Linked DNA regions of Homo sapiens: region 1 is linked to region 2. A link means that fine-mapping ties the variant in region 2 to the expression of a gene that starts in the linked region. Tissue or cell type: cerebral cortex. Region 2 holds a variant in brackets; the other region holds the start of a gene. All regions are shown on one strand. Distances are from middle to middle.

Region 1 (8,106 bases), 75 kb after region 2:
AAAGGAAGAGTCGACGTGCCAAACTTCATTGATATCTTATTTTAAGAATTTGCCACAGCCACCCCAACCAGCAACTACCACCCTGCTCAGTCAGCAACCATCAACATCGAGGTAAGACCCTCCACCAGCAAAAAATTACAACTTGCTGAAGGCTGGGATGATCTTTAGCATTTTTTAGCAATATAGTATTTTTAAATTAAGGTAAATACTTTTTTTGATACAATGCTATTGTACACTTAATAGACTATGGTACAGTGTAAACATAACTTTTATATGCACTGGGAAACCAAAAAATTCATCTGACTTGCTTTATTGTGTTGGTCTGGAACTGAACCTGTGATATGCCTGTATGTATCAATGTTAATTTTCTAGTTTTGATAGTTACACTGTAATTATATAATTTCTTTCTTTCTTTTTTTTTTTTTTTTTTTTGAGACAGAGTCTCGCTGTGTCACCCAGGATGGAGTGCAGTGGCATGATCTCAGCTCACTGCAACGTCTGCCTCCTGTGTTCAAGCAATTCTCCTGCCTCAGCCTCCCAAGTAGCTGGGACTACAGGCACAAGCCACCACACCCAGCTAATTTTTGTATTTTTAGTAGAGACAGGGTTTCACTATGTTGCCCAGGCTGGTCTCGAACTCCCGACCTCAGGTGATCTGCCCACCTTGGCCTCCCAAAGTGCTGGGATTACAGGCGTGAGCCACTGCGCCCAGTCTGTAATTATATAATTTCTTAACATGTGGGGAATCTAAGTGAAGAATATATGAGAATTCTTGTATAATTTTTGAAGCTTTTTAAAAGTTTGAAATTATTTTAAGTTTAAAAATTCTTGGCTGGGCCTGGTGGCTCACACCTGTAATCCCAGCACTTTGGGAGGCCAAGGCGGGTGGATCACTTGAGGTTAGGAGTTCAAGACCAGCCTGGCCAACATGGTGAAACCCTGTCTCTGCTAAAAATACAAAAATTAGCCAGGCGTGGTGGTGCATGCCTGTAGTCCCAGCTACTCTGGAAGCTGAGGCAGGAGAATCACTTGAACCTGGGAGGCGGAGGCTTCAGTGAGCCAAGACTGTGCCACTGCATTCTAGCCTGGGTGACAGAGTGAGATTCTGTCTCAAAAAAAAAAAAAAAAAAAACTTAAAACAAATGAAAAAAGGGTTGTTTGAGGAGGAAGAATGTCTGGAAAGGGTAACTAGGAGCAAGCATACCCACCCTCACCCTCACCACCCAGTTTCCCGGTAAGAGGGGTATGAGAGGGCTGCCGGGAGGACAGAGTGTTCAGGGAAAGCCAGGCTGCTACTTAAGCAATGGTTCTCACTGAGAGGTGGGGGCTGGACAATTAAAGGGTGTTTCAGGGCATTTTTTCTTTTTTTTGAGACGAAGTTTCGCTCTTGTTGCCCAGGCTGGCTCACTGCAACCCCTGCCTCCTGGGTTCAAGCGATTCTCCTGCCTCAGCCTTCCGAGTAGCTGGGATTACAGGCATGTGCCACCATGTGGGCCTGGCTAATTTTTGTATTATTAGTAGAGACGGGGTTTTACCATGTTGGCCAGGCTGGTCTTGAACTCCTGACCTCAGGTGATCCACCCACCTCGGCCTCCCAAAGTGCTGGGATTACAGGTGTGAGCCACAGTGCCCGACCCATTTTTTACTGCTTTTTTTTTTGAGACAGGGTCTCGCTGTCACCCAGGCTGGAGTGCAGTGGTGCAATCCTGGCTCACTGTAACCTCTGCCTCCTGGGCTCAAGCAATCCTCCCATCTCAGCCTCCTAAGTAGCTGGGACCACAGGCGTGCACCACAACACCCGGCTAATTTTTGTATTTTTTGTAGAGACGGGGTTTCATCATGTTGGCCAGGCTGGTCTCGAACTCCTGGACTCAAGCGATCTGCCCACCTTGGCCTCCCAAAGTGCTGGGATTACAGGCGTGAGCCATCACACCCGGCCCTGTTTGGGGGGCATTTTTGACTGTGACAATAATTGGAGATCATCAGTGACAACCCTAGCTATGGACCAGGGATGCTCAGCCCTCTGCAGTGTACAGGACAGCTCCACACCACAAAGAATCATACCACATTCCATACAACTTTAGAATATCTCACCAGTAATGTAGGTGAAAAACCTGTTCATTTGTTCTTTTATTCATTCAACAAACATTCATTGAGAAAGTCTACTAGGTGTCAAGCACTATTTTAGGTAATAGGAATGTATCATAGAACAAAAAAGACAAAAATCCCTGCCCTTCTGGAGCTTATAATTGAGTGGGAGAGTCAGACAATAAACAGCAAACATACTAAGCAGTTAATGCTACACTGTGAAAAAGGTGTAGAATACCATGGAACAGACAGAGCAGGGGCATATTAGGGGAGAGCTGCAATTTTAAACAGGATGGTTGGGGGGCCCTCTGAGAAAGTGACAGCTGAGTAGAGGCCTGAAGGAAGCAAGGGCCTGAGCCTTGTGGGTATTTGAGGAAAGAGCATTCCAGATACACGGAATGCAAAACCCCTGAGGCGGAAGTGTGCCTAAGGTGTTCAAGTAATAGTAAGGTGGCCAGCATGGGTAGATAGAGTGAGCAAGGGGGGAGAGTGGTGGGAGATAAGGTCAGGGAGATTAAGAGGGTCTCATCATGGATATTAATATATACTGATTTTTCCAGAAATTTAACGACCATATAAACTGAGAAACTCTTCCACATTGTTTTGTTTAGAACTTTGTGAAGAATTGTTCATTATTTAGGAAAACTGTGTCACTCTACCTGTGGCTTCTGAATCACCAATCAACACACATGTAGCTGTCACTATCATTAAGTGTAAGACCATTTCATCATGTCTTCTAATGGAGTCATATCCCAGTCTTTGCATATATATGTGCGATATATGTATAATATAATATTATATATTACTCTTCCTTTACTACTCTCTATATTACAATTAGGGCATTATATTGGTTTTCAGGGAATTATGGGTGTAGACAGATTCTATTTTCTATCCATTTCATTTTAGAATAGTGAAGCATTTCAAAATACACCTTATTAAAAAAAAAAAGCAATGTTGGGTCCAACAGGTATGAGAACGACCAAAGCATAGCAAGAAAATAAAGGGAGTATTCAGAAGCCAGGATGAGAATGGAGGGAATTTTGCTGATAACTGAAGGTGAGTTCCTTAAGGCCTGGTCAAAGGATTTCAGGATGGAAATAGAAAATAGGATGTCCAGGGCTGTATGGAGACATAACCAGGAGATCTGTGGGCTTCCTGTGGTGACTAACATTATATAGGATAAGGGGCTATTAAAAAGTGGTTTTTAATCTAAGTTGCTCCCAACTTTGGGTGTCTCTACCTGTTTAACAGAGTAGGCTGGGGAGCAAAGAGAGTTCTCTCTTCAATGACACCAGAAGCAACCCAAAGCCAGGCTCCATTTTTTACCCACAGAACAGGTCGGAGCCCCAGGCTAAGCTCATGTCCTCGGGGGTAAAACTTATTGCTATAAACTATGCACCTCTAACCTCTTTAGGGTTGAGAAAGAGACGGGTAAAAAGAGGAAAAACAGTAACAGAGAAAGACAGAAGCATTCAGAAAGATCCAATGGAGGAAGGGTCAGAGACAGAGAAAAGACAGAAACCAAGAGAGACAATATTCTTTTCAGTCAAGATAGTCATTATTTATTGAAAATTTTCTAAGGACCGGGTGCAGGGCAAAGTAATGCACATGCATTGTCTCAGGTACACATTATCAGACCCCCATTTGGCAGATGAGGAAACTGAGGCCCAGGCTGGTGAAGGAGATAGCTCAAGGTTTCATAGCTAGTTTAAACTGGTCAGGATTCAGCATCTTATATCTACTACGTCTCAAAAAGTGGGACAGAGACAGAGATGGGAGAGGGGATGCAAAGACAGACACGCACGCAGACGATCACGTGAGCGGCAGACCTGCATGGAACCGTTTCGAAAGACACTGAGGGTGGGAGGTGGGGCCGCGGGAGGGCAGCAACGGGCACCGACCGCTCCGCAGGGTACTCACCTGGTTGCAGTCTGGGAGCCGCAGGAGCACTCGGCTTCCCTTTGCGACCCGCACGATCCTCCGCAACCCGCTGACCTAGGGTTGAGAGGCCGCCCCAGTAAAAGCTCGCGCAGGCCCCACCCCTCGCGCGCTTCGGCCGGCCTCTTCCCGCTGCCACTCCCCCCACCGCCCCGTCTTTATGGCTTCTCACCGTACACCTCCGGCCGTCGCCGCCGCCGCCCCTGCCGCGCGCGCACAGACACCAGAGGCCTACAGCAAGATCTGAAGGATACGCTGGACGGAACCCTTCCACGGGCTGCAGCGCGAGCAGGGGCACGGGCCTACGCCGCTACCGACGGCTCCCCGGCTCCCATTGGAGGAGTGCCCTTCTGCCTTTCCAGGGATTGGCTGGGGATGGAAACATTTTATTTTTACCCCCGAGGCTTAGAGCCAAACCGAGGAAAACTCCGCCCCTTCGGGGGACTTTGATTGGTTAAAGAGCCAAGCCCACCCTTTAATAGGATTGGCCAGGAAAGGAGTGCTTGTCATGGCCCTTTGCCTGTCTATTCGACAGGTCTTCAGGCGGCTACTTGGGAATACGCAGGCGGGAAGCCGGAAGCCACGCCAGGCGCCGAGTCACTGCACAATCGAGATGCCTGGCTTCTTTGACGTTTTACTCTCCATAAGCCACCTTGCACTGCCACCGCTCTGCTAAGAGACGCGATTCTGCCCCTAGTTTCTCACAGTTCCACACCCACCTGCAGAGATTCCTAAGCCAGGTTTCTCTCGCTCAAAGTGAGCAGAGTTCCTTATTCCATGCATGGAGGATGAGGTGGCTATGGGGATGTGGCGTGTCACCTACCAGTCCCTGATACCTGCTGAGACATTGGTCAAGTGACAACCTCGCTAGGAGCCTCAGTTTAACCATCTGGAAATGGAAAGATGTTTTAAAATTTTCCTCACAATGTGTGAGGATTAAATGAGAGGGCAAATATAGATCAGTTGCCTGGGGCATAAATAATTAAGTTCTCTCCTCCCAATTCTTTCCCAGTATTCAGGCGGACAGAACTTATGGCCCAGAGAGGCAAACTGACTGGCTTGAAGTCACACAGCCAGGCCCCACCCCTCGCGCGCTCCGGCCCTGCCTCTTCCCGCTACCACTCCCCACCACCGCCCCGTCTTTGCGTCTTCTTACCGTACACCGCCGGCAGTCGGCGCAGTAAGACCCAGAATAAAACCCAGGCTTCCAAAGGAAAACTGTTTAAGAAGGAAGGAGAGATGGGAAGGACCCTCCTATTTGCAAGGGTTCTTAATTTGTATTCTGCAGACCTCTAATCGAGGCTGGGGACAGGGTTTGGAGAGGTCCATGAATTTGGATGGGAACAAATTTACACCTTTATGGCCGGGCGCAGTGACTCATGCCTGTAATCCCAGCACTTTGGGAGGCCGAGGCGGGCGGATCACCTGAGGTCGGAGTTCGAGACCAGCCTGACCAACATGGAGAAACCCCATCTCTACTAAAAATACAAAATTAGCCGGGCGTGGTGGCACATGCCTGTAATCCCAGCTACTAGGGAGGCTGAGGCAGGAGAATCGCTTGAACCTGGGAGGCGAAGGTTGCCGTGAGCTGAGATCGTACCATTGCACTCCAGCCTGGGCAACAAGATTGAAACTCCGTCTCAAAAAAATAAAACAAAATTACATCTTTATTTTCCCTCTCCTCTAACTGAAATTTAGCATTTTTCAATAAAGAATGTAACTAGGCATAGTAGCAGCAGTAGTAGCAGTACTGATTGTCACTAATAGAAATCAGAGATTTTCATATCACATTATAGATGTTGCAGATCTCTTGAAAATCATATAATTTCAATCATTATTTTAAAATCATGATAGTCATTAGACCCTCCATTAAATCTTATGATTTAATGGATTAATGGGGAGTACATATACGATTATACTATAGCACATATTTGCTTTTTCCATATTTTAATAACTATATTTCAATGTAATCAATTTCTTTTGTAATTCTAGATATTTTATTTTATGAATTTAAACAATTTTTTTTTTCTGAGAAAAGGTCTGGTGGGGCATGGTGGCTCATGCCTGTAATCCCAGAACTTTGGGAGGTCGGAGGCGGGTGAATCACCTGAGGTCAGGAGTTCCCGACCAGCCTGGCCAACATGGTGAAACCCTGTCTCTACTAAAAATACAAAAATTAGCCGGGCGTGGTGGCGGGCGCCTGTAATCCCAGCTACTCGGGAGGCTGAGGCAGGAGAATTGCTTGAACCCAGGAGGTGGAGGTTGCAGTGAGCCGAGATCGCACCATTGCACTCCAGCCTGAGCAACAAGAGTGAGACTCCATCTAAAAAAAAAAAAAAAAAAGAAAAGAAAAGAAAAAGAAAGGTCCCATTAGGCTTCACTAGATCACCAAAGGGGTCCATGGCACAAAAAATATTAAGAATATTTGTCTTGAACTCTAGGCTCCAGGAGGAAAAAGACTTGCTCTATTGGCTGGGTGCGGTGGCTCACGCCTGTAATCCCAGGACTTTGGGAGGCCGAGGCGGGCTGATCATGAGGTCAGGAGATCGAGACCATCCTGGCTAACATGGTGAAACCCCGTCTCTATTAAAAATACAAAAAATTAGCCGGGCGTGGTGGCAGGCGCCTGTAGTCCCAGCTACTCGGGAGGCTGAGGCAGGAGAATGGCGTGAACCCGGCAGGCGGAGCTTGCAGTGAGCGGAGATTGTGCCACTGCACTCCAGGCTGGGCAACAAAGAAAAAAAAAAAAAGACTTGCTCTATCTTGTTTCCCTGCTGTATCCCTATCACCCAGTTCAGTACTTCAGGCACACAGTAAGTACTCATAAGTGTTTACTGAATGAATAATAGGATTCCTTCCCAACCATCCTGCACACCCCCAACTGGGGGAGCCAGTGCCAGCCCTTTGGGTCACCTAAGGAGGGACATTCTTGAATCTAGTTTTGTCCCTGCCAATCCGATTCTACTCACAGAAGTAGGTGGCACTTTAAAGGTCTGGTCCCAGGAAATCCCAGGAACCTCCCACCCAGGAGCAGGGCCCTCTGCTGCAAAGGAGCGAGGGCAAGCTAGGAAGCATATGAAGACAAGTAGTTTCAACATGGGAACAGGCCCTAGGGCACATTGGGCCCATGACTCTTCATCCTCCTGGTTTCTGTTTAAGGTCTCAGCCAATGGGGCCTGTCTTCTCTGGCCTTCAGCGAAGACAGTATCTTGGAGCTAGATGTGACCTTAAAGACCTAGAACAGCCCTCTCTTTCGGAGGTCCAGACTGAAGAGTGAGGGCACAGGGAACAAGATGTTACTCTGGGCAAAGAACATCCTGTCCTCACATGGCTCAGCCGAGGACATGAGCACCCTGGCCAACTATACTAGAATACTATGATTGACTCTTAAGAGCATCACTGAAGATGAAGACCAGAGGCCCTCTCTAACAGGGTGGGTGAAGAAGAGTCTCAAATGCCAGGATGAGGGGCTGGGGATTTGATTGGGGGGACAGAGAGGAATCAGGGAAGAGCACAGTGAAGGCCAGACTTCAGAGACCTGCTTCAAGGCTAGACTCTGTCTTGAGACCTTAGGCAGGTTGCTTCTCCTGGACTGATCCCCCTGCACGATAAGCCTCAGTTTATAGATAGGAAAACTGAGGCCCTCTAGAGAGGACAAGGAGAGTCATGTTGTGAGGTAGGGCAGACTGAGGCAAGAGTAACCAGACTGGCTACTCTGGCTCTGATTGGCTGGGATCCTTTGGCAGGCTGACCTCTTTCTGGCCTACTCCGGCCTACTCCATTGCCTTTGCCCCTGCTGCTTTCCCCTCCCCTCCTCTTCACCGCATACTCATTGGGGTTGGCTCCAGATATTGCATGTAGATGTCTCTTTTCTCTGGGATCCTGCACTCTCAGCTCTGGCCTCGAGGTATTGTGTTACTTTGGGCAAGACATTCCCCTTTCTGGGCCTCAGTCCTCCCTGCCCACCTCTGACAGCACATCAAAGCCTCCATCCTGTCCCCCCCAAAACATTTATCAGAATCATTGGAGAGACATGTCAAGGATCTGGTATTCCAACCATCTCACAGAGGAGGCCCAGAG
Region 2 (8,106 bases):
TCACCATGTTGGCCAGGCTGGTCTCAAACTCCTGACCTCAGGTGATCCTCCTGCCTCGGCCTCCCAAATTACTGGGATTACGGGAGTGAGCCACCATGCCCGGCATTGGTCATCTTCCTTAATCTCTCTTTTGCAAGTGCTATAGTTTTCTCCAGAAAGGATTTACACATTGTCTGTTAGATTTATTCCTGGGATTTCTAGGTAAGTGATTTTTTAATGCTATTTAAATAATTTAATTTTTTGTTTTTCAGCTGTATTTGTTTTTATATAGAAATACAATAGAATTTCGTAAGCTGATTTTGTATTCAGCAAACTTTATTCCTGGGATATTTACCTCCATTCTTCAAATATTTTCTTTATTTATTTATGATTATACTCTAAGGCTATTATCAAAATGCGGACATTTCTCCATTTCTCTTGTTTTTTAAATTATTGTTTTCTATATTTTTATTCTTTCCTGCTGCTTTCTGGGAGAGGTCCTCAATCTGATCTCCCAATTCACTTATTCATTCTTCATCTGTGGTCAACCTGCTATTTGTCCCATCTATTGTGTTCTTTCTTTCAACTATATATTTTTCATAGCTAATATTTTCACTTTTCTGTGTCTGAAGGAAGGTGAAGGAAGACCCCAGAGAAGGTGGTGATGAACTGTCTGGAGAGATGAGTAGGGGTTTCTCAGGTTGTGAGAAGGAGGAGAATCCACCTCAGCAGTAGCTAAGGCCTAGAAACCAGACGGTGGGGCCCAGCTTGTCCTGCTGGGAACGGCTGGGGCACTGGAAGTAAGATGGGAGGGAGATCAGGTGGAGAAATGCAAGGCTTTATAGGGCCAGGGTCACTGGGGGTACCCTGACTTGCGACCCCCGCAGACTGTGATGGCCTCCAGAAAGACGGCAGCTTCAAGGCAGTGTTGGTCACCCAGTCCTCTGAGGTGAAGAGACCCACCCGCCCCCACCACCACATCATGCTCCAGCTCCATCCCCCTTTCCCCAGGGCACCTGCCAGAAGGTCCTCCCTCCCACCCTCCCTCCCTCCCTCTTCTTCCTCTCTTTTCTTTCTTTCCTCTTTTTCTTTTTTCTTTCTTCTTTTCTTCTATTTCTTCTTTTTATTTCTTTTTCTTTTCTTTCTTCTTTCCTTTCTTTTCTCTCTTCCTCTCTCTTTCTTTTTGAGACCGAGTCTCACTCTGTTGCCCAGGCTGGAGTGCAGTGGCACAATCTTGGCTCACTGCAACCTCCACCTCCCAGGTTCAAGTGATTCTCCTGCCTCAGCCTCCCAAGTAGCTGGGATTACAGACGCCCACCACCATGCCCGGCTAATTTTTAAATTTTTAGTAGAGACGGGGTTTCACCACGTTGGCCAGGCTGGTCTCGAACTCCTGACCTCAGGTGATCCACCTGCCTCGGCCTCCCAAAATGCTAGGATTACAGGCGCGAGCCACACTGTGCCCGGCCCCATCCTGTCTTTCTTGAGGAGGCAGGTTAAGTGGAGAAGGGGACCTAGTCCAGAGGGGTTTAGGAGCTCAGGTTGGCTACTGAGGGACTCAAGCTCTGGAGATGCCTTCAGGGCCAGTCTCCTCTCTGGCCATTTTATTTCCCCAACTACCACCAGGAGGTGCTGCTGGGATTGAACCCCTTCCTGCCCTTTACCTGGCATTTAGGCCTCATTCTCTTCTGAGGGCCTCCCTTCATCTCCCTGCCCTTGGTACGATGGCATCCCGTTTGGTCCTGGGATCAGCTCCAAATAGGAAGGCAGGTAAACAGCCAGACCTTTCCGCTAGACTAAGGCTTAAGGCCAGGCCAAGTCAGCGCCTGTGCATCCATTACTTCCTGCCACCCCTAATTGCAGACATCAGAGTCCCCAGCTGGGCCCGTCCTGCTATGTGGCCTATGTGGCTACCTGCTCAACCTGTAGCCTGGCTTGGGACAACCCCAATACTGATCCCTCTACATAACCAACCATTGCAGACCAAAAACAGAGGCCCAAGGGAGCAGAAAGGATCCCAGGAGGAGCAGGCACATTGAGGGGTACTCAGATGGGAAGGGCCACCCGCCCAGGAACTGCTGAACTGCCTGGGTGCAAGACCTCCCTGTGTCTCAGTGGAGACATCCCTCTGGCTGTTTCTCTGACTCTATTTGGAGGGAGTTTGAGGGTGATGAGAAGGATGGGAAGGGGGCTTGGTAAAAACGTGTTACTTTGTATTTATTTCATATAGTTATTACAAAAAAGAAAATACGCGCTGTTAGAGAATACAGTAAATCTTTAATTTGTATAAATATTTAAATAAACTTCATATTTTTCATGACATACTTGAGCATCTTCTATGAATATGCATTTTATATAAGGTTTTATGCTGGAAACAGCTATACACAATTTCTGATCAAGACTTTTTACTCATGATCTCTTCAAATTCTTGACTATTAATGAGAAATGATTGTTGTTCACACAGGTGGTGGTAAGTGGAAAAGGAGAATTTACCTATGTTTCTACCCATTACCAGGATTTCCATTTCATTCCTGAAATCATTTAAATCCCATTAAACAATTTAATAGTTTTAAAAGAACAATTCTTTCCTCCAGTTATTGGCAGATATTACTCTACTCCTTTTGCTACAAAACGAATGTTTGTCCCGCTTCCCCCAAATTCACAGGCTGAAATCAAATCCCCCATACGATGGTATCTGCAGGTAGGGCCTCTGGGAGATGAATAGGTCATGAAGGTGGAGCCCCATGGATGGGATTAGTGCCCTTAATAAAAGAGTACCAAGAGAGACCTCTTGCCCCTTCCATCACGTGGGGAGACAGTGAGAAGGTGCCATCTATGAACCAGAAAGTGGGCCCTCACCAGACACTGAATCTGCTGATGCCTTGATCTTAGACTTCCCAGCCTCTGGAACTGTGAGAAATACATTTTTGTTCTTTATAAGTCACCCAGTCTATGATGGTTTGTTACAGCAGACTTTTAACAACTTTTATGATTCAAACTATAACAGCAACAACACCTGGAAACCATTTTCACCTAACTTTTCCTTTCTTTTTTTTTTTTTTGTTTCTGATTAAGTACTTGCTCACTTTTCCAAAGTTTAATTTTTGCTTTGAACACCAAATCTTTGTCAGTTCACATTAGTTAATTTTGACATGGTCCTTCCAAATTTCTATTAACTATATTCAGGGATCCAAAGAGTCAGCTAATCTTTCCATAGATCTGCCAGGTGAGAATCATTCAAGGAAAAAATCTTCACCTTTTAAATTTTTTTTGCTACAAACTTTTGAAACTATTCTTCCTTTGGATCAGCTCCCACACTTAAGTATGAAATAGCAGAAAGGGATGTTTTGATCCCTTGTCTTTACACAAAGCTGAAAACAGGTGAGAGGTTAGTGCCTTGTATGTAATTAAGATTCTGAGTATGATACTGATAGTATCATTTCCGGTGGAAATCAGAAAGGCAAACTCTTAAAAATGAGGGCTTCTCTGTGTAAAATAGTAAATGAAATAATGTACTACTTGAATCTCAGGGTTTTCAGAACAAATTCTAGATGCAAAGCCTTTATATATTCCTATCACTGTGGCTTCACTCACTACACAGACTTAATTGTTTTAAAAATTCATAAAAATGCAATGCATGCTCCTGGTTTGGATCATTTTGCTATAAATTATAAGAAACTATTATGATAACTGGTATAATTTGAATAGGGTCTGAGGACTAGGTGGTAGTAATGTACCAACATTAATTTCACGACATTGATGGGTGCATTGTGGTTATGCTGGAAAATGTCCTTGTTTGTAGAAAATGCACACTAAAATATTCAGAAATGATGGGGCACCAGGTCTGCAACCTACTCTCAAATGGTTCAGGAAAAAAGTTATCTGTACTGTTCTTGCAACTTTAATTTTGCAATACCTTCAAAACATATAATAATTTATGAATTATTAATTTGACTATTTTGACCTGGAATAGTCTGCTTGGCATTGTTGCTTCTCTTGATAATTCTCCATGCAAATCAGACATTTAGTCTGAAGAGTGAGGGCTTGACAGGCATCCAAATCCAAATCCGAGATGATCCTCATGACTTAAGCATCATTTGTGGACACTGAGTTAGTCTTGGAAATGCGATGACATTCCAGCTTCACTCCAAAAGTTGTACAGTACGGTATTGTGAGGGTTAATTTTATGTGTCAACTTGAATGTGCCATTGGTGCCCAGATATTTGGTCAAACATTATTCTGGATGTTCTGTGAGGATGTTTTGGGATGAGGTTAACATACATACATACATATATACATACATACATTATTTATTTGACAGGGTCTCAGTCTGTCACCCAGGCTGGAGTGCAGTGGTG[C/T]GATTTCAGCTCACTGCAGCCTCAACTTCCCCAGTCGAGGGTGATCCTCCCATCTCAGCCTCCCAAGTAGCTGGGACTACAGGCGTGCTACCACGCCTGGCTGTTTTTTTTTTTTTTTTTTTTTTTTTTTACAGAGTCTTGCTGTCGCCCAGGCTGGAGTGCAATGATGCAATCTCAGCTCACTGCAACCTCTGCCTCCTGGGTTCAAGCAGTTCTCCTGCCTCAGCCTCCCAAGTAGCTGGAATTACAGACACACAGCAGCACACCTGGCTAGTTTTTTGTGTTTTTATTAGAGGCGGGGTTTCACCATGTTGGCCAGGCTGGTCTCGAACTCCTGACCTCAGGTGATCCACCTGCCTAGGCTTCCCAAAGTGTTGGGATTACAGGCGTGAGCCACCACACCTGGCCTGGGTGGACCTGGTTTCTAATGGCTTACATTTGCATATCAAAGGTTGCCAGCCTGGCTCTAAGAGCCGGGGCTTTACAAGAAACTTTTCCAGAGATGCTTTAAAAAATGAAAACTTCCCAAGGACCCCTTTTCCTCTCTATCTGCCTAAAATAATTTCTTAGTAACTCCTACAACATTACTTCCTGTGGAGATGCCACACTAACTGCTGTTAGGGGATTTTGGGCGGCGACTCCTTCTGGCTACTTCCTGCTGAAAAGGGGCGTTGAATGGGGAATAGCAGCTAGGGCTCCCCCTGGGATCAATCTAAGGGTCCTCGGAAGAATGGCCTGTCCATGTGTGGTTCAGTTTACAGCACCATTTGGAGTTTGATTGCTTCTAGGCGAGAAGAAACAATTCGAGTTATAGTATTGTATATACAGAGTCCAAATATCAATACAAGACATATAAGCAAGAGAGGGCTTAATAAAGGCGTTAACCAATTCCATAAAGAAGACTGGAATTTATTAAAGAGGGTTTGTAGCCACTCAGGGCTGAAGCTGGCATTTTTCCTGAGCCTATCAATAATTTTGATTTGATTTTTAAGTATCTGTAAATTTTCCTTTACTAGAGGTATTAATCCAAAAGCGGCATGTTTCATTTAAAACTGCATCACTAAACCCAATAAAAAGTCCTACCAGGCTCAGTGATAGTAAAACTTTCATGCTTCCTTTTTGTTAGTAACTATTATCCCTGCTATAAGGATAATAATTAAGCAAAATACGACAGCAATGGAAACTCTGTTTAATACTTCAGTTAGAAGGTGCTACTGTGTATAACCCTTTTGCAAATAATAGAGTGAGGATAGCAATTTCCGTAAGTGTGGTGTTGTAGATAATTTCCATCTAAAATTTTACTTGTCAAGATATAGAATTCCCCTTTGGGGGGGGTCTATGAAGTTCCTTGTTTTTATTTTCCTAAACAAAGAAACTTCCGGATTATGGGCACCCTACTCACTTTTATTACCTGGCAGAATTTGCAGGATAATTGCCCAGAACCAGTATATTGATCCAGATTTTTACATTACCCATCCCTTATTTTTTCTTCCAAGCTGCAGGAGACCACTACTTGATTCACAGGAATAAGCAGGGTTAGTCTAAAATGTAGGCGAAAAGCTTGAAAACAATTAATGAGACTAGGACTTAATGACAAATGTATGATAAGCTTTGGAGCACCATTTTTCTCTCTAGTCCTCATTTTTGGTAAAAACAAATTGTAAATAAACTGTAGTCTTATATTTGGCCTGATTATTTGCATAAAGTGCAGCAAGAATGGTTATTTTTACATAGGCCTTTTGGATTGGCTTTGATGAAACTCTGTTTCACAAGGAATTTCAGATAAGACTTTTAAAGCCGAGCCCAGCAATGGGTTTGTATCCTCAAATACCTGTGAACTGGGTGATCCTCTCCTCTTGAGTTCCCAAGATAAACTCGGAGCTTCCAGACCTGTTAGAAAGTGACATTCTTTACTAACCACAGGTTAGGAACCCTGTGCAGGGACTGTGTAGACAAGGTATGAGGCCAGTTCTCCCCAAGGGGCTTTTATTGGCTCTGCATGTCAAGCTTGATTCCTTAAAGAGAAACACACCCTTTCAGTTAAAGCCTTGGTAAAATAACCAGTTTTTCCAATTGTGTCCCGCTGACAAAGAAAAATGGATTCTTATTGCACCGATGCAAACAACTATATTGCCATAAGTTAAGAGTATTCACAGATAGTTCCCAAATTCCAGAGGAACCAGGCAGAGAAATAAACATGCTCTAAATTTTGTTCATAGGAATATACCTTACTCAATTATTAAAGGCCATCAATAGTTTAAAATAAGTTTCTCCTTGACTCTGAAAAACAAAACAAGGATCAGCAGTATTCCAAGCAAAAGATAAAAGACTTGCTTTAACTTTCTGAGTGCAACTCATTTAGTTAACTCTTGTTTTGCTTGATATTTGTGAACATGTCAGTTCTTTAAAAGTTTTCTATGTTCTTTCTCTGTTCCAATGTTACAATCTGTAAAGCTATTAAAACCTGCATTTGAGAACACCTGTTAAAGTTCTTAATATAGCTTGATTACAAACCGTCTTTTGAGAAGGAACAAAACACTTGTCTGCGAATGGCAACATTTCCTGGGTAGTTACAATTAAAAACATGACTGACAAAGAAGTTTGTGTATATCCATGGTCTACGATAACTTTACCTTTAATTATGACTGAGAGCATATACTTAGACATTAGAATTTTAGAAATCCCATACAATTTTTGAACATATATTAGTATTATTCACCAAAATATAACTTAAAGAAGATTGGACATCATTTTGGCAATCTCATGTGACTAAACATGTCAAATAATCCTGTTTATCTCTTTTTTAAATGTTTCAGGGGCCCTATGAACCATCCAAAAAGCCAATTAGGAAGGACAGTTCCCAGACTGCCATAGATTATTTTGCCCAAATGATGACTTAAAAGTCAAAAACCTTTTATTAGCCTTTACTATGACATGGAAATCCTGTTTAAAACCAAATTTTACCCTTGTATTAGTTTGTTAATGTTAACCCTAATTTGTTTAAATAAAACCTTATAGATTATTCCATCTAATCCTAACCAACTTGACCATGAAGTGAAATTTCTACAAACTTTTTATAACCCTTTTACTAAAAGGCAGAGTAGTGTTTTAAGACCTCCTTGCTATGCTTTTATTTCAATGCTTAATTTATGAAAAGACCATATAGATACTAGAGGAGAAGACAGTATAGTGCTTCTACCATGCATTTCATTGCAAGGCAACCCAAAGCCAACTGGCTTATTTTGTAATTAGCCCATCTCTGACGGGAGTCTCATCTCCCAGTGTGGGGTGGGGATGTTTCCTTATTTTTCAGGTGGCCAAGAGCATGCTTTTCTGATTTATAACTATTATTAGCCACCCCTTACAGGGTATTTTTTACCTAGTTATTATACACCAAAGCTCTCTTACAATGCGGAGTAATTTCTGATACCGCAAAACTCAAAACCATCAGATAATGCAAAACAGAACAGAGCCTTTGATTTTGAGAGGGAACTATTTGCTTTTAATTTCTGGGGTTTCATGAGGAAAACAGGTTTTTCCCCAAAACAGGGTCTGTGGCACCTCCTCTATTTTTCCCAAGGAGTCCCATGCTACCAGAAGTTATCTCAGGGCCTTTCATGCATGCACTAAGAGTGGCAAGACAAAAAAAAAAAAAAAATGGAAGAAAATAATTCAGCCGACTGAGAAGAACCTTTTTCCAGAAAACAAGATCCAAGAAAAGAAAAACATAAAGGCCTTTTAAATATACCTAAAACTTGAATATTCACTT

Evidence for each region. PIP is the estimated chance that this variant, and not a neighbour inherited with it, causes the effect.
Region 1: it holds the start of KANTR, and the variant in region 2 is fine-mapped to the expression of KANTR in cerebral cortex (GTEx, PIP 0.97).

Annotation. Positions count from the first base shown.
Region 1 is chrX:53,090,377-53,098,482 of GRCh38, reverse strand. KANTR (KANTR integral membrane protein) reads right to left here and starts at 4,341. Exons shown (of 3, transcript NM_001397448.1): 1 at 4,199-4,341. RefSeq lists a silencer at 4,013-4,162 and enhancers at 4,223-4,342, 4,653-4,712, 4,425-5,249.
Region 2 is chrX:53,165,042-53,173,147 of GRCh38, reverse strand. No RefSeq gene overlaps it. Among named protein-coding and RNA genes, the nearest start is that of MIR6895, 26 kb to the left of the region's middle. The variant C/T (reference allele first, on the strand shown) is at 4,338.